Linked DNA regions of Homo sapiens: region 2 is linked to region 1. Evidence: fine-mapped expression QTL. A gene starts in region 1. The other region holds a variant in brackets. All regions are shown on one strand. Distances are between the middles of the regions.

Region 1 (10,738 bases):
ATGGTGTGAACCCAGGAGGCGGAGGTTGCAGTGAGCTGAGATCACGCTCACTCCATCTGGGTGACAGAGCGAGACTCCGTCTCAAAATAAAAAGATATTATATATTTTGTAAAAGTTTTATTTTTAATTTATACATAAGAATTGCATAGATTTATGGGATAAGTTGTGTAATGATCAAATCAGGGTATTTAGCATATCCATCACCTCAAATTGATGAGAATACTAAATAGCTTCCCTTTTAGATATTTTGTAGTATACACTACAATATTGTTAAATATAGTCACTGCAGTGTGCAATAGGACACCAGAACTTACTCCTCCTATCTAGCTGTAATTTTGCATGCAACCAATCTCTCCCCATTCCTCCCCAGCCTCTAGTAGCCACTATTCTGCTCTTTACTTCTATGAGATCGCCTTTTTTTTTTCTTGAGATGGAGTCTTGCTCTGTTTCCCAGTGCAGTGGCGGGATCTTGGCTTACTGCAACCTCCACCTTCCAGGTTCAAGCAATTCTCCTGCCTCAGCCTCCTGAGTAGCTGGGATTACAGGTGCCCACCACCATGTCCGGCTAATTTTTGTACTTTTAGTAAAGACGGGGTTTTACCATGTTGGCCAGGCTGGTCTCGAACTCCCGACTCAGGTAATCTGCCTGCCTCGGCCTCCCAAAGTGCTGGGATTACAGGCGTGAGCCACCACACCTGGCCATTACACATGATCAACTTTTTTAGATTTCACAAATGGGTGATTTTGTCTTTCTGTGCCTTATTTCACTTAATGTCCTTTAGGTTGATCGTGTTGCTGCAAATGACAGGATTTCATGCTTTTTAATGACAAAATATTATTCCATTATGTGTATATACTGCATTTTCTTTATCCACTCATGTGTTGATGGACACTTAGGATGATTCTGTGTCTTGGCTATTACAAATAATGCTGCAGTCAACATGGGAGTGCATATTTCCCTTTGACATATCCATTTTCTTTGGATACATACCCAGCAGTGAGATTTCTGGGTCATATGCCACTTCTACTTTTAATTTTTTGAGGCATCTCCATACTGTTTTCCATAATGGCTAGATTCGTGTATATACCCACCTAGAGTGTATAAGGGCTCCATTTCTCCATATCTACACCACAATTTGTTATTTTTTCTCTTTAAAAACATTTTTAGATTGAGGTGTACACGTGTAGGTTTGTTACATGGGAGTTAAAACATAATCCTTTCTTTTTCTTTTTCATAAATTGAGACAGGATGTTGCTATGTTGCCCAGGCTGGTCTTGAAGTGCCTTGACCTCCTAAAGTGTTGGAACCACAGACGTGAGCCACTCCACCCAGCCTAAAACTTCATCTTCTTTGGTAAATGTGCTTTCATCTTCAGCATTCCAGACTTAGTACCATCCTCCCAGGCACTTATGTCCTCTTCTTTGCTCTCATCCTTGGCGTCTTGTCCCAAACTGAGTCCTGTCAATTCCACCTCTAAAATAGATCTGTAATATCTTTCCTTTTTCTCTTAGCCACTTTCATGCTGCTGATAAAGACATACCTGAGACTGAGCAATTTACAAAAGCAAGAGGTTTAACAGATTCACAGTTCCACTTGTCTGGGGAGGCCTCACAATCATGGCGGAAGGTGAAAGGCATGTCTCACATGGCAGCAGACAAGAGAAGAGTGAGAGCCAAGTGAAAGGGGTTTCCTCTTATAAAATCATCAGATCTCATGAGACTTATACACTACCATGAGAACAGTATGGGGGAAACTGCCTCCATGATTCAATTGTCTCCCACTGGGTCCCTCCCACAACACAAGGCAATTATGCAAGCTACAATTTGAGATGAGATTTTGGTGGGGACAGAGCCAAATCATATCATTCCACTTCTGACCCCTCCCAAATCTCATGTCCTCACATTTCAAAACCAATCTTGCCTTCCCAACAATCCCCTGAAGTCTCAGGTGCCCCCACCACGCCTGGCTAATTTTTTTGTATTTTTAGTGGAGACGGGGTTTCACTGTGTTAGCCAGGATGTTCTCTATCTCTTGAGCTCGTGATCCGCCTGCCTGGGCCTCCCAAAGTGCTGGGATTACAGGCGTGAGCCACCGTGCCCGGCCGGGGTTTCTTCTTATAAAATCATCAGATCTCTTGAGACTTATTCACTACCAGGAGAACAGTATGGGGGAAACTGCCTCCATGATTCAATTGTCTCCCACTGTGTCCCTCCCACAATGCAAGGGAATTATGGAAGCTACAATTTGAGATGAGATTTCAGTGGAGACACAGCCAAGCCATAGCCCCGTCACTCTAGTCCAACCATCATCTCTCTTCTGGTCTTCTGTGAAGTCTCCCGAGTCACTCTGGCTCACCTCCAATGCAATCAGCAGCCAGGGGACACTTTTTAAAACATAAATCTGACCGTCATGTGCCTGCGGAGTGTCCCGGAGGCTGGATGGAGAACGACCTCCTCAGCTTCTAGGATTCTTAGGGTGGGGACCCAGGTGCAGCAGGTGAGGAGGTGGAAGTCATCATAGAGAGGCAGGGTTTGTGAGAAGCCATTTCGTCTCTGTGGAGCCTTTGCCAGGCAACATGCTGGCTGCTGCCCAGGAGAACCTCCCAGGATGCTAACATGGCCCTCTGGGCTGATGACAGGGTGCTTTTGTAGGTGGAGCTGGGCATCCCCAGATTTCCCCACACTGTAATACCTTTTAATTGTTGGTATGTGCTAGAGCTTGGTGGAAAAAATAAAATGGATGAGTTCCATTTTGGGGGTCAGGATAGAGTTTTTAATGGGTGCATTAGTTCTCTTTTTACCCCAACTCTGCCAACAACCGAGAGGAACCCAGTGTTCTCACACTCCCCTCCCAGAGTTAAAGTTCAGGAACTCCCTGGGTGTCCAAATCTGGACCCTTGCTCACAGTGCCCTGCCTTGTGGTCTCACCATCTCAGTCACAAGTAGAGAAAAACAAAATCTTCTTTTTTTTTTTTTTCAGATGGAGGCTTGCTCTGTGGCCCAGGCTGGAGTACACTGGCATGATCTTGGCTTACTGCAACCTCTCCCTCTTGGTTCAACTGATTCTCCTGCCTCAGCCTCCCGAGTAGCTGGGATTACTGGTGTGTGCCACCATGCCTGGATAATTTTTGTATTTTTAGTAGAGATGGGGTTTCGCCATGTTGGCCAGGCTGGTCCGAACTCCTGACCTCAAGTGATCCACCTGCCTCGGCCTCCCAAAGCGCTGGGATTACAGACGTGAGGCTCTGTGCCCGGCTGAGAATAACAAAATCTTAACCCTCAATGTCTGCACTGGGGATGCAGAGTGAGTGACTTCCAAAAAGTCATAAATACGCTTTAAATCATTCATTTACTCATTCCGTAAACATGTACTGAATACCCCTTATGTGCCATAAGGAATACAGGAGAAAAAAGCCTTTGTTTTTGTTCTCAAGACAACAACAAACCAAAGTGCTGTAGGTGCTATGGTAGAAATATCCACATGTTGCTTGAAACACAAGGAACACACGTCTAACCTGGGGCCCAGCATTGGAAGCCCAGTCCAAATCTTGCTGGGTGAGGTTGTAGGAATTCTTCAGTCATTGACTGATTCAACAAAGATTTACTGAACACTTACAGTGTGCCAGGCTGTTATCTGGGCACTGAAGACTCAGTCTTATAAATGAAGTAGCCAGATTCACAGCTCTCACGGAGCTTGTGTTTGAGTTGTGGTATGGGGAGGGAGCTAAGGCAGGGGATGCAGAAGAAACAGACTGTATACCAGTCAGCCGATAAGCAAGCCATTGATTCCACGTGTTTTACTGAGTGTCTAATATGTATCATGCAGAGTGTTGCATGCTGGTATTATAAAGACGAATGAGACACAGCCCCTGTCCCTGAGGGTTTAGATAAAAAGGAAAGATCCTGTAGGAATGCCTAGTGCAAAGAATGGCGCTGTGTTTGGGGAAAATCAAGCTGTTCAGCTGAGCTGGGGCACAGGGTGTGGTGAGGGAGGGGGCTCCCTCTTTCAGTCATGAAATGCACCCTTTCCACAACTTGGGAAAGAATCCTTCCTGGAAACTTCATATGAACCCTCTCAAAGTACTTATTGATGTAGACATTTGGAACACGCTGTAGGTCCTGGGTGTCTGTAAAATAGCATCATCCAGCCGATCATCTCTCCCCACATTGCTGAACTGAGGACATGTGAACTGGTATCTCTCGGTGGTTCAGAACAGGGGCCAGCAACCTACGGCCCTAGGGCCACCACCTGTGTAGTAAAGAAAGTTTTTTTTTTGGAACACAGTCTTGGCCATTCATTTAAATATTATCTATGATCACTCTCATGCTACAATGTCAGAGGCATTATAAAGACCACGTAGCCCAAAAACCTGTCTGGGTCTGTAAGAAAAAGCTGCCAACCCCTGGTCTAGGCGCTCTGCTTACCTGAAATACAAACCAATAATGAGTTTCTGACACACCAAGTTCAATTCCCTCCCTCCCTTCCTTCCTTCCTTCTTCCTTTTCTTTCTTCCTTCCCTTCCTCCCTTCCTCTTCCCTTCCTCCCTTCCCCTTCTCACTCTCTCTCTCCTTCTCACTCTCTCTCTCTTTCTCTCTCTCTTCCTTCCTTGTTTTCTTACCTAACCCACATTCCCAGAAAATGATGTGAATAAAGACAAGTGTTGGACCTCAATGTGTCAAAGTTAAACTACAACTAGGATCTGCCTTCTGAGGTATGGCAAGAAACAAATTGGTTAATGTTTGCAAAATGCCAGGACATTCTCGAATAAAAGGCCCTATATAAGTTCGGAGTATTTATAATAATTATGATTATTATTATAATTTATGAGATGTCATAAATCTCTCCAAAATAGGATGAGATGAACACTTTTAACAAGAGAACAGGACTCTATATAAATCGCTGTGGGCTCACCACCTCTAAGGAGGAGCACTGACTGAAGACAGGTGAGTGTGAAGCAGAGGCATGGATCTTACACTCGGGCTTATTGAGGATGAAAATCCAGTGTATGGTGATCAGTTGGCAATGATTGTGTCTCTGCTGCATAAGAAATATTGGACTCAGGCGAAACTTAAGGACCTTGCAAAGAAAACCCAAGTTTGAAAAGATTTGTAGATGATAGAATAATTTTTCCTGTTCATTACAACACTCATCAAAATTTAGATATCTTTTAATGCAAGTATGTCATTACTTTTGGATTTGTGAGCATGTGCAAATCGAATAATGGGAGAAAAGAAATGTGTGTGCACTTAACTGTAGCTGTAATAGGGCCAAATGCGACGTCATATTTGTTAACTGAAAGCCAAAAGACTAAGGTGTTTGTATTTTGCCAGACGGTAAATCCCTTGCCTGCCCTCATGGGCAGTCTTGCCAATGCTACATTAACCCATAGACCATGAGTATTGGTTCTATAACAATCTTATTTTCTCTGCAAGCTGTGTAAGAACTAAGGCCAACATGTCTAACAGCCTCGGCTAACAGACTAAAAAGACAGATACGCCTCTAGAGTCCATAGACGGAACAGAGGGGCCAAGTCTCCCTGATTTGCTCTGTGCAGAAGGAAACGTTCACGGGGAAATCTCCAGCATAGGATGATCCTTCCTGGAGTTCTGAACTCTCAAAAACGCAAATGGGAAAAGCAGGCACAGAGGACGCACTGAGAGAAGGAACTCCCTTCCAGCTCACAGTGTCTCTATGCAGGGAAGATTTGCCTGCCCAGAGGGAAGAAAATGATCAAACTTTCAGAGGTCTTCTAGGCTGGTAATTATTGATTACAATCCAAATTCAGTGAATAGGTATTTTCACAGGCCATGTGAAGGTGCAGCTCTACGCAGCGTAACAGCTTAAAATGAGCCTTCCTGTTGCTGCCCTATATTTTTGCTCTAAAAAGTTGTATTTTTCTCAAAAAAAAAAAGATCTTAGTGGCAGAATAATTTTATATTATTTTATATTTGTGACTACATTGCTATTACTATTTTAATTTTAGGCCTGTTGGTGCATAGCAATCTGTGAGGCAATGGGCTGGAGTGTTGCTGTACGTGCATGTGTGTGTGTGTACGTGTGTGTGTGTACGTGTGTGTGTATATATGTAGGGAGGGAGAAGATTAGAATAGCAAGAAGAGGATGAGTACGACATGATGCTACTGGTAAGGCCTTTAAGAAATTTAAAAACTTAAACATTTTAAAAATGGAATAAAATAAATATTTAAAAATTTTAAAAAAACAAAAATTAAAAAAATTAAAAAGTTAAAATAATAAAAAATTAAAAATAATTTTAAAACAGGCCAGGTGTTGGTGGTTCCCAGCACTTTGGGAGGCTGAGGCAGGCAGATTGCTTGAGCCCTGGAGTTTGAGACCAGCCTGGCCAACATGGCGAAACCCCGTCTTTACTAAAAATACAAAAATTAGCTGGGCGTGGTGGCACAGGGCTGTAATCCCAGCTACTCAGGAGGCTGAGGCAGGAGAATCACCTGAGCTCAGGCAGGTCGAGGGTGCAGTGAGCCGAGATCACAGCACTTCACTCCAGCCTAGGTGACAGTCAGACTATGTTTTGAAAAAAAAAAAATTAAAACAATTTTAAAAATTAAAGAGTAATCTAATGAGACATTCTTACAGGCTTATAATGGTGAGATGATTCCACAATTTTGGGCCACTGCACTCCCACCTGGGAGACAGAGTGAGACCTTGTCTCGATTAAAAAAAAAAAAAAAAGAAAAAAAGAAAAAGAAAAAGAAAAAACAAAAAGAAAAGAAAAAGAAAAAAACCCAGGGGCTGGGCGCGGTGGCTCATGCCTATGATCCCAGCATTTTGGGAGGCTGAGGTGGGTGGATCACCTGAGGTCAGGAGTTCTCAACCAGCCTGGCCAACATGGTGAAACCCCATCTCTACTAAAAATACAAAAATTAGCTGGGCGTGGAGTGCCTGTAGTCTCAGCTACTCAGGAGGCTGAGGCAAGATAATCACTTGAATTCAAGAGGCGGAGGTTGCATTGAGCTGAGATCGCACCACTGCACTCCAGCCTGGGCGACAGAGTGAGACTTTGTCTCAAACAAAACAAAGCAAAACCCAACAAAACAAAAAGTAATTAAAATTAAAATTAAAAAATTAAAAAAAGAAAGGCCTGTTGGCACACAATGAGTAGGTAGACACAGAGACATGTTAGCAATAAACAAGGGTGACAACACAGCTTAGAGCAGGAGACCATGCCTAATGTGGATGCATACAGGAGTTCTCAGTTCTCTCAGGATTAGATGGGGACACCACAATGGGGCAGGGGCACCTTCATTGGGCACGTTGAGGTGTTAATACGTCACATTTCTGGGCTGGATGGAGGGCCCCAATGACCTGCAATGATACTGTTCAAGGTAAAGATTGAGAGCATTCATGGAAAAGTTTCTAAGGTGAGAAAACCATAAGACCAAAGATACCTGTTTCTACCTTTTCTAGAAAAATTGATGAACTGAAGAAGACATGGTCCATTATGCCTTACAAACTTACACAGTGCTTTGGGAATTCCAAAGTACTCAGTGGAGAGAGGGTGAGTAGAGGAAGATGTCCCCATCAAAGCCACCAGGAACATGAGGTAGCTCCTGAGGGATGCTCTGGTTGTCAGTTTCCAGTGTGCCTGGCAGGCCTGTTGCCCCAGCTTGTTGACACCCCCTTGCTGTTTGTTACTATTTTGCTCTCTGGGAAGGGAGAAGAGGGATGCTACCATAAACATTGTGCTTGACATCATGACCACTGTGCTGCCTTGGTCTGACATCTTCATAATGGTTTTAAGCAGGGAGCCACAGGGGAATTAACAAATGAGTCATAGGGAACTGACAGACACTCTTTGAGCACACCCGAGTGATGTCTCAACAATCTCTTCTAAACACAGAGTACTTTTCGTCACTTGTAAAGTTGGGCCATAGAGTTTGGGTTGCTTCAATATGCTGTATTTATGGACAAAATGACATTGTTCATCCATTTAAGAATTCCAAGCTAGGTGTGGTGGCTTGAGCCTGTAACCCTACCTACTCAGGAAGCTGAGGTGGAAGGATCACTTGAAGCCTGGAGTTCAAGACCAGCCTGGGCAACATAGTGAGACCCATTTCTACATAAAAACTAAAAAATTATCTGGGCATGGTGGCATACACCTCTAGCCCCAGCTACTTGGGAGGCTAAGGTGGGAGTATCACTTGAGCCCAGGAGGTCAAGGCTGCAGTGAGCCGTGATCGTGCCATTGCACTCCAGCCTGGGTGACAGAGTAAAACTCTGGCTCTAAGAAAAAAAAGAAAAATTCCATTGTCACTTCTTGCTCTTCCCTGATGAAATTGAAAAACTTTACCTTGATGACCTGGTCCCAGGAGCAACTAGAAAGTAATTCTGTGTTCCCATTAAGTGGCACATGTATTTACATAGACTCTTTCATTAAAGTGACTTCTCAACACAGATATTTAGTTCCAAGCATGGAAAATACGGTAGCTCTCCTGTTACAATAAAAGCTGAGTCCTTCCACTTGGGTTTCCAAGAGGAAGTATTTTTTCTTTCCTGGAAAAGCAGCAAAAAGAGTGAAATACCCTGGGTGGAGCATTTGAATGTGAGCAGTGCTTTTTCCTGAAGGGTCCTTCCATAAAGCCAGTGATGCACTTTCATGAGACCATGAGCTTTTCCTATACCCAAGCAGCTCTTTGTCCATTCTTTTCTCCTGGGATTGGTTGTCCTCTCTTGTTTACTGCTGGAGGCTCAGGATGCTGAATAAATGACTCCTGTTGGGTGATTAAATCTGAGCGTTCCTGCAGACCCAGCTAAGATTCCAGGTCCCTGAATCTTTTTGGTGTTGGGACTGACCATGACATTTTGTGCTCAACTAAGCAAAATCGGACAGACCATCTCAATGTTGTAGAGAGAATAACAAAAAGCATGACTGCAACTGAAGGGCATATGCCCCCTCAGTTTAAGAAGACAGAAATCGAATAACTTCCTTTTTCTTTTTTGAGACAGGCTCTTGCTCTGTTTCCCAGGATGGAGTGCAGTGGTGTGATCATAGCTCACTGCACCCTTGACCCTCTGGGCTCAAGCAGTCCTCCTGCCTCAGCCTCCCAAGTAGCTAGGACTACAGGTGTATGCCACCACACCTGGCTTCAAATGACTTCCTTAAAGCCTCTCCATCTTGAGATGTGATCTCTTCCTGGGTGTTTGAAAGAAACAACCCATAAGGTTAACCTCAAAACAAAAGAGATGAGAGAAGCATTATGAAAGTACCAAGTGCCTTGTTTATATGCACATTCCTACATGTAATGACAGTAATAATTCAAAATGCTAGGCTGCCAGGCTCTGCTGACTGGGGCAATGATGACATACACCCTGGAGTGGCAGGGCTTGGTGGGAGGCGCTTTGGAGGCAAAGGTCCAGAAACTCTACCATTCCCTGAGGTTAACAGCAAACTATCCTTGGTGGTATTTGTGTATTGGTTTGGTAGCCAGTAGGAGAACCAGGGCTGTTTGTACTCATGGAAGGTGATTAGGGGAATGGTTGGGATAAGAGAGAGAGAGAGCACATGAGCGGGTGCTCCATGTTGGCCACGTGTTCATTCTCCAGTCTTGTGAGCACCTCATGAGTTCAATCCTGGGACCCCTGCCCATGAGCCAGCTTCTTGGGGATTTGCTGGTGGAGGTAGCTCCATTCTCCCTGGGCTCTGGTCCAGGTTTGTTGCCGCATTGGGGTTTTACAGAGGGGGAATGGGGAACATGGCTCAAGGTGATAAAGGGGGTCTGTGATTCCAGGCTGGGGTTAGAGCAGTGGGAAACGTCTTCCAACCAGTGTACATTCCAGGGCACTGAGGAAAGCGTGGTCTTTCCTCAAACCTGAAGAAGAAGGGACCTAAATTCCAAGAAGTCACCAATACAAAATTCTCCTTTTGATAATGGAGATAATAAAAAGGCTCTTGGGATGAGGTATGGGCATCAGAAATTTGCTTTTCAGGGTCTGGAGCCAGGTCAGTATGTTTCTTGGTGGTTGAGATTCAAAGTGTCTTGCCTTCTTGAAATAAAGTAGTTAGTAACTTGACTGTATGTTGAGTTCCTGTGGGCTGAGTAAGAGTCTTCTCATTTTTAGATTAATTGAAAGGATGAATGGAGCACTTACTTGTCCTACTTTTGCTTTTTTTTCACTATGATTCAAATAATTCATTTTCTTAGGTCAGATATGGGGAAATTTGTTCTTTTCACCCCTGCTTCTGTGGAAATATTACATGTGGTTATGATGATGACTGATATTTTTGTATTCTCAAGCTAATTTTTGTTTTAAAAGTGTTTCAGGAGCCGTAGAGCCAGATCGTCATCATGTCTGCATTGTGGCTGCTGCTGGGCCTCCTTGCCCTGATGGGTGAGTGTGGCTGATTTTTACAAATGACTTTGGAGATGGGAAGGATAAGCACAGGAACACAATGGCACTTCTAATACTTGAAAATGCAACAAAAAAGATTATTTTTTCCCTAAACTGTCCAACAAATCCTGGAGTTAGGAACAGCCACCAACAATCAGCCTCTCCCCAAATGTCCCACAAAAGATTGGGGTTCTCTGGAATGCAAGGTGGGCTTAAAACAGCACTGCTTGAAGCCAGACTTTAAATATACACCATCAATAGCTGCTCATTGTCCACTATAAAAAATGCCAAATTGAATTTATTCCTAAAGCATTTATTTCCATAGAAGAATTGAGGTGGTTGCCAGAATAAGACTAATGAATAAGACTAATT
Region 2 (10,738 bases), 820 kb after region 1:
ATTTTAGTACTTTAGACACGATATTTCAAATAGATGTCTATTTTCTCAGTCACAGATTCACCTCAAGAAAGTTTTGTATTATAAAAACAAAACTCTGTAACCATTCCAAGGGTGATGAATCAAAAAAGTTCCCACACATCTCATTTAAAAATCAAAATACTTTCAAATATTTAAATACCTACACCCTGAAATCAACAAAATAAAGGAACTCTCAGCTGGGTTCTCACCACCAGAAGAGTTGCATTAGTGTTCCCGAAGCGAGAGTGAGCCCTGAGTCTCGGAGGGACAACCAGACACCTGCGCCCAGCCCTAGGGGCTTTCAAGAAATCTGACTGTGGCCAACCTAGGGCAGTAAGCTGGATATGTTAAAAAGAAAGATGATTGCCATAGTTCTCTTACTGCAGGCTTGGAAAATATAGAGAGGGAAACCCCACCCCCCACAGATACCTTAACTAAAATCAGTTCTGACTTGGATATTCTACACAGATAAGATCAGCAAGTACACAAGATTTGGCATCCTGCCTTTTCACCTGAATCTTAGACTGTGAACATATTTCACGCTGCAACCAGACCGCATGATTATAACAGGTTTTTATTTCAGTCTAAAATGTTTCTTACAAAGAAGTAACATTTCTTCAGCTCTTCAGCAGCCACGGGCCTGCAAGCAGCAAGGACCCTGCATGATCAGGATGGTCTCCACTACCACAAAAGCTGAGGTCACACTCATTTAGATCCCAACCGCCCCGCCAAGCAGATGTGCGGAGCTGGAGTTTACTCAGCTACCAGGACACACACACACTCTGTTCGCTTCAAGAGGCCAGCCAAGTGAGAGAAAAGCCACTGATTGGAAGACTGAAGCCACTACTCTCGGTGGGATCTCAGACAAGGATGCTCACTGCAGCATTACCTGTACTATAAAGGATTTTATACCATAAATTGAAAGATTAAATAGCAGCCTACAAGCCTGTCAGGGAAATGGTAAATAATGGCTCCGTCATATGTGAATACCATATAGACATTTGAAATGGAAATCAGTTTTATGACAACTTGACAAGCGAAAAAGTCAGATTCTAAGTAAGATCTACCAATATAAAGACATAGAAGCACTCACGCGGAGTGGGAGAGAGGAAAAGAACACGTATAAAAATGTTAAGCACTGGGAGATGGACACATCATGCTTTTCTGGTTTTCTTCCTCTAGACTATGTTTTACTAAACCCTTTATAGTAAGTATGCAAAATTTTAATAACTGGGGAACTGTACCATCCTTAGGTTGTTTAGTGCCTCTCTGGGGCTGAATTCATCTCAGCTGGAAGGGCTCTCCTTCCACAGGCTGCCTCGAATCCCTCACACCCTCTCAGGGCCCTGTGCATGGCTTCCCACCCCAGTCACGTGACTGCATTCTGGACTTTGAGCTCATCAGGAAAGTAACTGGGGCTTGGTCTTCCCTGACTGCAGGATCATGGGAAACAAAGATACAGTGAGCCTGACAGGGAGGAGAGGGAACCAGAACAGGCCACACAGGAGGAACGGAGATGGGAGTTCATAAGGCTTGTGGGCAACTAGGGGGAGTGGGCAGCCTCGGGAATGACCATGGGAGAGGAAGCTGAAGGCTAGCGGCTCAGTAACAACAGACTCATCCCTGCAGACAGAGTCATCAGAAGGTGATGGGACCTCAGAGACCTCTGGGGCCAGGGGTAACATGGAGTGATGCAGGGGAGGGACAGGAGTGGAGGGGATGGTAGTCACCGGTCAAAGCGAAAGAGATTCCAAGCCCACCTCTGGAGAGAGACAGGACATGCAGAGAAAGGACCTCACTCCATTTAGAGGCCTCTGGCTCTTCTGGGAGAACCAGCCATCTTTCAGTTATGTGAAGAGATGGGGTGTGGGCAGGGGCATCTGCAAGGAGGGATGGGGGTGCAGGAGCTTCTTTATGCAAAGGTGGAGGCTCAGGCAAGAGGGTGGAGAGGAAGACCGGACTTCACTAGACTGACTACAGATGCAGTCCATCTGTTGGGTGCAGCCAATGTGCAACCTTGGCTAGCCACACAGAAGAGGGTCTCCCTCTCAACCATCCATGGGAGCAGAGTAGCCAACAGGAAGGTGGGGTAGGGACAGGAAGAGAAAGGACTGAGAGCTGGTCCACGCTGCTATGTTTAGGCAGGGCTCAGAAGTAATACTAATGATGAGGTGTTTTGAGGCATGGACCACAGGGACATTCAGTGTAGGATGAACCTGCCTGAAGGAAGCCAACTCTGCAACAAAGATGGACACAGACTAGCCTGCCCTTCCCACTGGCAGTGGCGACAGATCCCACATGCAGCAAGACATTAGAAAGACAAGACCGGGGGGGAACATGATCCATCAGGACTTGGCCCCACAGCAGCCCCACCTTGCACTTGACCATCTCTGCCCCGCCTGGGGCAGCCCTGCAGCCACAAGCCCAGTTTCAAGAAATACCTGTTTCTGACCACAAGCATCACAAGAGTGAAACTAAGCAATGCTTGCTTCCTGTCTCCTAGCACGAAAACTAGTAGGACTGACTGGGTCACAAAACACAAAGAATTCGATGAATGGAAAAAATGAAAAGCAAATTTGGGGTAATGGTAACCTAGAGAGAAGGTGGGAAGGCATATGTAGTTTCAAGTGTATTGGTCATGAAAATGTCTAAAGCTGAGTTGCGATTCACTGTATTGTTATTCCTATCATTTTTCACATAAAGGACTGCCTAATAAACATTTTATTATTATAGAGTACATGCCAAAATCATTATTAGCACAGGTTGAGTATCCCTTATCTGAAATACTTGACACCAGAAGTGGTTAGGGTTTGGAATTTTTTTAAGATTTTGAAATATTTGCATTATATACGTACAGATTCAGCACACCTAATCCAAAAATCTGAAATCCAAAATGCTCCAATAAGCATTTCCTCTGAAGGTCATGTCAGTGCTAAAAAAGTGTCAGGTTTGGAAGTACTTCAAATTTTGGATTTTCAGATCAGGGATGTTCAACCTCTATTATGCTTTCACTTATTTTCAAAAAAGCAATGTAAGTATAATTTTTTCAAGTGTAAGCTTAGATCAAAAGCTTTGCATTTCTCTTAAATGCAAGAGGACACATATATCTTTTTGCATCACATCCCAGGGTTGCTCAGAGGCTCATCCCTGGATGTCAACCACACTTGCCTACTGTCAGCACTGACTGGCTGGTCGCTGGCCTCCCTGTGACAGGCCCACTGGGGAGACACCTCCATTCTGGCAGGTGTGACAAGTGGAGGGGCCATTGCACAGAGGCCCACAGCTGCCCCTCTCTGCTTTCCAGGACAGCCAGTTGCACCTGCCTCTAGGTGCCCACCTTTCTGTTGGCTGCTTTCGTTTTTAATCCCACTCTTCTTCAGACTGCCCTCCTTGCAGGGCCCCATATTCTGAACCAGGTGCAACCAATCCTAACATCCCTTGAGGCCCTGCTCTGACTGGTGCCAATAAGCTAAACCACAGCTGGCCAAGATAGGAAAAGTGATTTAACCTGCTGTCCCTCTAGGATGGGATTTTACCCAGATCTCCAGAGTCTCAGCCCAATAATGTGGGAACCACAGGTGTAAAGGCAAAGAGGAAAAAAGCAGGATACAGAAAACATTTTACAGCAAGGTGGCCCAACAGGGTCCCTCACATCACCTGCTGTGCCACTTTAACGTGGCTTCTGCTTAAATTTCAAGTTTAAAAAATTATATTTATTTTAAAGACAGGATCTTACTCTGTCAACTAAACTGGTCTCAAACTCCTTGCCTCAAGTGATCCTCCCACTGCAGCTTCCCAAAAAACTGGGATTACAGGTGTGAGCCTAAACTTGGAGCTTTTAAAGTACACAGTGTTGAGTTGTTAAGCCAGGACAAGACATCAAACAATCCAACTCCAACATGGCAAACTCGTAATGAAGGGAGAAGGAGAGGCAAAGGTGCTGCTGAGAAAACCTTTCACTAGAGAACGGAAAGCCCAGCCAGAGGTGGTGCGTGGACAGGGAGCACCCTGAAGACCAGCAAGCTAGCTGACACTCAAGGCCAGCTGAGCATCACATTTACAGGCTGTCACAGCCTCCCTGTCTTCCTGGGATTCTGCAAAACACAATTCCACAGGGAGGACAAGCACTTAGAATTCTCCCCTGGTACAAAGCCTGCTTGCTCACATTGGATCACTTGGAAACATAATAAATCCTTCCTTCCCCATTAATCTGTTACTGAGGCTCAATGTGATATAATCATTTTATATAGAGAATTCTGTCACTGAATCTTTATATCTAAAACCACTTCAGATAGCTAAAACATATGCCAGCCTTAAGCCAAATGCAGCTCCCTAAAGAAACCAGCACCCCAAAGAGACCACAGGATTATCCAAGAGCCACAGGCAACCAGAATAAAACTGGAGGAGCGAGGGTTCTGGCTGCCAAGAGTGGTCGATTTATGCGTGCCAAGGGACCAAGCCCCCACTGGTATAGGAAATGTATGCCATTTCTTTCCCCCCAGGGAATTTTCAGAGGAAGACATCCTTGCTCCACACAGGATCACACCAGGTCCACATTCCTCCAAGTCTCCTGTTCACTTCCTGGCCTCTCTGTGGGGTGAGGGATTACAATGGGCAGCAGGTGGTGACACCCTCCACCTTGAGAGGGACGTGTCAGATGCAGGAAAAGTTCACAGTGCTCTGATTAAATTATGTTTTGTTAGGACACCCCCTCCCCAGTGTTGGCATTGAAAGGTAACTAGCAGAAGAACTTGAAGCACACCTGTGTAACTCAAGGTCAGTCCCCAGGTGCTGCTTTGCTCTCTTTGGGCCTCAGTTTCCTAAACTGCACACTGGTAATGCACAGCCTGCAGCCTGAGAAGCATGTGAGAATGGAGCACGTGCAGCACCACAACTCCTTCCTGGGGCTGGAAGGGTCCAGAGTGTGCGGCACCCTGCCCCCCACTCACCCTCCACAGGCCAGCACAGGGGGAGTTTGGCTGCGGAGACGGACACACGCGCCCTGGGGCTGCAGCTGGCAAGAAGACAGGCTAGTGGAAGATTCAGTGCTCTCCGGTCTGAGGCTGCCAGCAATGCAAGGGACTGGAGACGGGCACATTCTGCCTGGCAAGGGATGGGGGCCAGGAGTGAGGGACCATGTGTGCAAATGCACGGGAGCTAGCTGGCCACCTCAGTCATTTACTCCTTCAGTGCACAGAGGGTCACCAAGGCCTGGGGCCAAGTGAGAGGACAGACACCCATAGGAGAAAGAGCCCAGACTCAGCCCTTAATGCCCAGAATGTCAGTGCAGGGGAACCACAGTCAGTGATGATGTTCCTAACACAGGTAAAATGACGACAGTCCTTTCTACAGCAAAAAGCTGCTCTGTGTCGTAAGAGCATATGATAGGGCACCAGATAAAAATCTGGTAAGTCACTCCACCTCTCTCTGAGCATCCCTTCCCTCCTCTGCAAAATGGAAATGAATAATAATTACCTCATCAGGTAGCTGGGGATTAATAAACTGATCCTAGACAGACATCTGGCCCAATGCCCAGCATATGGTAAATGCTCAGTGAGCCAACCTCTCAGGGCTGAGTTCCCCACCCACCCAAGACAGTCAGAACCAGGAGCCCCTGGCAAGGCTCCACCCAATGCCCTACAGAAACAGAAAAAAAGCTTTAGTTTCAGCAGAGGCTGAGAAGGCAGGCCTCTGGGGCTGGCAGGGAGGGTGTCAGCCAGAGGCTCCGTGTCTAGCGGGCAGCAGAGGAGGTGCTGGCAAGGACAGCAAGCTGGCTGGAAGCCCTGACTGCAGGAAACAGACCTCAAGCAGCACTCCCTGGGGGCAGGACCCTGCCATTCTGTGCTGTTTGGGGGCAGTTTCTAAAGCCTTAAGAAAATAGCTTCCTGTCTCAGGCTTTCTAGGAAGTCACAAACTAGGTGTCTGGGAGGCAGTTTTAGGTAAGTGCACAGCCCAAGGGAGAGCTGACCCCTGTACCAGACAGAGACCCTGACAGAAGGGACAGCCCAGGGCCAGGCACAAAGGGCTCCAGCTCAATCGAAGTTGGTCAAACAGGGACAAAGGAGACAGTTTTCTTCAAGGACAGGAAGAAATCTGTTGCTATCCTGTGTACCCCGAATTCCATTTGCAACCATTAGTTGTTTCAGAAAAGCTGGTGC[G/A]TGTCAGATGTTTTATCTATGAGACAATGATTTCCCAGCACCTGACCACACTTTCTGTGTCACAGAAACTGTGGGCTGCAGGTTATACGTGGGTTCTGTGCCTCCTGGCATACCTGGAAAGATCCTGATGCAGCCCACACTGTCAGTTCATAAATAGTAGGGTCAAAACTCTGTTTCCCATGGCTGGAGCAAGCTGCTTCAAACCAGCCATCCCCATGCAGAGATGCCACTGACTATGTATTTATTGCTAACTGTCTTCTAATTATGATAGAGCAGTCAGCGCCTGGCTTCTAAGACACCTTGCTCAACTCATCAAAGTAGGGTAGCCTCGGGATATCTCACGAAGCACACACAGGAGAAGTTCCCACCCAAGGCACAGCAGATACCCCCCATCAGCACCACTGCAGCCAAATGGGGACAGGAGCACCTCCCCACACTTCTAAAATTAGAAGTGCCACCAATTAGCACCAAAATAAGTAGCCTAGTTTGGGGAAGGTGATAAAAATCAGCGAATAATATCTTGAGTGGGGAGTGGAACAGGAACAAGCACTCTAGGGCAACTGGAAGTGTGGTCTGTGAACTGGCAGTAGCAGTACCACCCAGGAGCCGGGAGGAAGTGCCCGACCTATGAAGGCTGACTCCCTGTGGGTAGGGCCCAGTATCTGCATTGAACAAGTCTTCTAGGTGACTGCTAGGCATTCAAGTTGGAGTAGCTATCTCTAGCCTGCCATCTTCGAAAGATGCCTGAAGACTTACACAATTATTTCCAGTTAAGTCCTAACAATCTACAAAAAAACCGGACCTCTTTCTTTTCAAAAAACAGAAAAATAGCACCACCACAGAAAGTCATGGGTGCGGGCTGCATTCATGCTCAGCTAGAACTGAATGCAGAGTAAGTCAGGACAGAATAGGACAGACACATACCTGCAACCTTCTCGGAAATCCATCACACCCTTCTACCCTCACCCCCTCAACCTTCCTACTCCCATTCACCCTATTCTCCCCAGCTGGGGCAGGGACCCTCTTCACAGCCACATTGGTAACCATCAAAAAGGTCAAAAGAGATCACCATGATTTGTTGCAAAGAAAGTCGGGGGAGGGAGTGCCCAGAGTTAACTCCACTAACTAGGGATCAGGGGTGTGCTCTGCCACCCCTACCCCCACAGCCCTGCCTCGCCTTGACTCTAACAGCAGCGCAGGTCTGGTGGAGAGGCACTCAGCTGGACTGCAAGGCTGGCTCAGCTTCTCACACCCTGGACCTCAGATCGGCAGAGAAGCCATCCAGGAACAGAGCCTTGTAAAAGCTCCCTGGACTTGGAGCAGTCCTGGTCCCAAGCGACAGGAATCCTCCTCTCTGGTGGCCACCTCCCTCATCAGTCATGACGAGGCCTCCACCAAGAGCAGGGCCTGCCTGAGGCTGTGCTCCTGGGTGGGAGGGAGGACACTGTGACTTAAACACAGTGTGGCTGAGAAAGAAAAAGGAAACACCCGCAAATTAAAGTGCGCTCTATTTTAGCTTTAAACACACATCCCTCCCACCTACGGCAGTGTCCAAAATAGCACATCCTATTTTAGGGAGATCAGAGGCAGTTCCTCAATAGGCTACAAAATAGACCTGGAGTTTGGAGACCAGCACCGCACAATAACAGTAGGTTGTAGGCCGCAGGGACTGCACTCGCACTGAATCCACCTCCCACTCCAGTCCCATTTTAAAGGCCAGAAGACCTAGGCCTCAAGAGCTAGCACGGCTGCTGGTGGTCCTCCTGACTCAAATTCTGCCCTCTCCATTTCCAATCCATGCCATGTGGCTCTCTTCCCACAGCAGGGCCCAGGCTGTCCACATTAGAGGGGCCCTTAGCCTCTCCTCCCTCATCCAACCGCTGTCTCCTGGGCAAGACCCACACAGGGCAGGGAGAGGTAAAAGGCAGGGTGAGGTAGAGGGAGAAAGCCTCTGTTCATCAGACTCCTGGACTCTGGGTTGAACAAGGATAGTCACTAACGGAGGGACTGAGACAGCCATGGTCTTGTTCACTCACAAAGAGAGAGCAGTTTCTACAAGACCAACGTTGACAGTTCCTGGAGATACAGGGCAGGAGAGAGGCAATCAACAGCCAAAATGGCCCAAGACTCGCCGACATTGAGGCTCTGGTTCATCCTCTGTTGTTAGGCTGTGGTCTGGTAACATGGTGTCCAAGTATCTCAGAGAAAGGCTGTAAAGCTGCCCCTAGAATCTGGAAACGGGTCAGGAACAGTCACTTGCTCAGTACTAGGACTCCCATGGCTATGGTTTCCCTACCAGGCAGGAAGACCAAGCTGTACCACCACACCATTCAGGACAAAGAGCCAAGAAGCGTGCCTGAAGCAGGCAGCTCAGGGAGACGGGACGGCGGGGGAGCTGCACACAGCATGCTGTGCATGGCCCCAGAGCCAGACCATCCGGGCTCCAACCCCAACTGCCGCTCACCCGCCACGCTACACGTCCCCAGGGAGAACTCATTTCACCTTCTGCTCCTCAGTCTCCTGCTCCTGAAATGGGTGTTACAGAATCATCTACTTCATGGGGTTACTGCAAGAATCAGATGACTTAATCCCTCTAAATGTGCCCAGTGCACAAAAATGCTACTTAAGTATTTGCCACTATTACTACTACCACTCCTGCTAAGCCCATCTGACAATCAGATACCCCAGAGGCTCTTCTAGCCATCCAGAAACAGGGGGATGGAGGCACTCAGGCCATGCCGCTGGATCAAGGACAGCAAGGAAGGGGCTGTGAGTACCCAGAGAACAGGGAACACTTATAACGGCAAACAAGGCCTTGAAGAAGGTTAATTACTGTTAAAAGTACAAACTTAACCCGCTATCGTCACAGGCCAGGAAGAGAACGGGCTGGAGGGCCCCATGAGAATTTCTGGAAGACAGGAAGGGAGGCAAGGCTATCTTGGCCATTCTCAGGTGATGGTGAATGAGGCAAACCACTGTGGAAACCATGAGCGCAGAGGGAGGTGGGCCCTGCTGGACACGCTTCAGAATGCCCATCACTCCCCTCTGAGCCAGGAGAGGTCTCCAGGAGCGCCACCCCTCCCCCAAGCAGGGCTCCTCCCCACACACACCCCAGGGCTGGGTCCCAGCACCCCAGCTGAGAGCCTCCCTGACTGTGGCTGGAGACCAGATACCTAAAGGGGGCTTGGTGAAGGAGAGCTCTTCCCCAGAGCGAGGGGCCCACCCTGGAGGAGAAAGTCCCTGCTCTGAGCTCCTGGGTGTGAACCCTCCCGAGGGACAGCAAACAGGGCCATTACTGCTCAAATGTGGAGCTTAGCATGTCTTAGTTTGACTGGGCATCCAGCCAGGCATTACTTTAATATACAACCCTAAAGCTTAGTCAAACTATCACTGGCTTGTGTGTCCTGGCAACACCTGGCCCTAAAACTGGGAATCACCTAGCACCAAATAAGAGAAATTAAAATTCCAGGAACAATCGAAACTCAAATTTTAAAAGTTTCTACAATGTGAATCTTCATTATCCTATGTACCCATTCTAATTAAATTCTTCAAAAAGTTTTGGGATGGTAAAAATTTCATGTGGCAAGTCTGACTCATTAAGGAGAAAAACATAGGCAAAATCACATTGCAAAGACTTGTTACCACAAAGCTATTTGGAGTTGATTTCAGTAAAATTCTGCATCAAATCTGGATTACCTGTGGGTGGATTAAACATTTGTAGATTAGCCTTGATAAAAAAATGAGAAGATAGTGCATTTGTGGAAAAAAATTTAAAATAAAAACCATTATAACAGCATTCCACACTGTTATTTAAAATTAGTGGCAGGCAAGGTGGACACACAGGCTCCCCCCGCCCCAGAGGCCCATCCCTGCCCACTATGGGTAGTACTGCTCCCCTCCTCCCAAAGCCCCCACCCCAGGTGAGAAAAGCAGGTAGAAGGGAGAGGGTGGCTGAACCCCAGCCCTGCCCACACAGCCCAGCATGCCCCAGCAAACAGCAGGAGACTACAACCATTGTTGGTCATGCAATGTAATACTGACGCCTAAAGCAAAAAAACAAAGTATCTGTAAATGTTCAATGTCCTGCTAAATTTTACAAGTAATTTCAGCCAGATTAAATGTATTTTGCACTATATTCTGACTACTTCTGTGTTACCCATAGTTTTGCTTTCCTCCAAGGCTTATGCTCCCTCTCCTACCTCATCTGTCATCCTGGTTGGTCAAGAGACAAATTTAAATAGCTGAGAAAGAAAGATGACCTCAGAACTTGAAACACCGCCCATGGGGTTTTAGAGGTCTCTCTTAATTTGTAAATCTAATGGGCTAATAACTCCCTGGCTTAAATCCCCTCTGTGGCTCTCGGCACACACAGAATGCAGCATGAAGTTGCACCCAGGATGGATCTCCTGGCCCTCCTCTGTCTCCCAAGCTTCCTAAGTACCACACTCACAAGCTGCTCCCGACAGCATCTCACAAGTGCCCTCTCTATGCCTTTGCTCAGCTGTCCGCTCCACTTAAGAGTGCCCCTCCTGTTCTTGTCTGCTTGACAATTTGTACTCATG

The links.
Region 2: its variant is fine-mapped to the expression of LYG1 in sun-exposed skin (GTEx, PIP 0.98).

What each region holds. Positions count from the first base shown.
Region 1 is chr2:99,295,256-99,305,993 of GRCh38, reverse strand. It overlaps LYG1 (lysozyme g1), which reads left to right and starts at 4,797. Exons shown (of 7, transcript NM_174898.3): 1 at 4,797-4,944; 2 at 7,445-7,535; 3 at 10,292-10,366. The coding sequence starts at 10,324. The region is part of intron 1 of LOC107985923 (a long non-coding RNA gene); the gene reads right to left.
Region 2 is chr2:98,475,109-98,485,846 of GRCh38, reverse strand. The region is part of intron 1 of INPP4A (inositol polyphosphate-4-phosphatase type I A); the gene reads right to left. Among named protein-coding and RNA genes, the nearest start is that of INPP4A, 36 kb to the right of the region's middle. RefSeq lists an enhancer at 2,499-2,618. The variant G/A (reference allele first, on the strand shown) is at 6,177.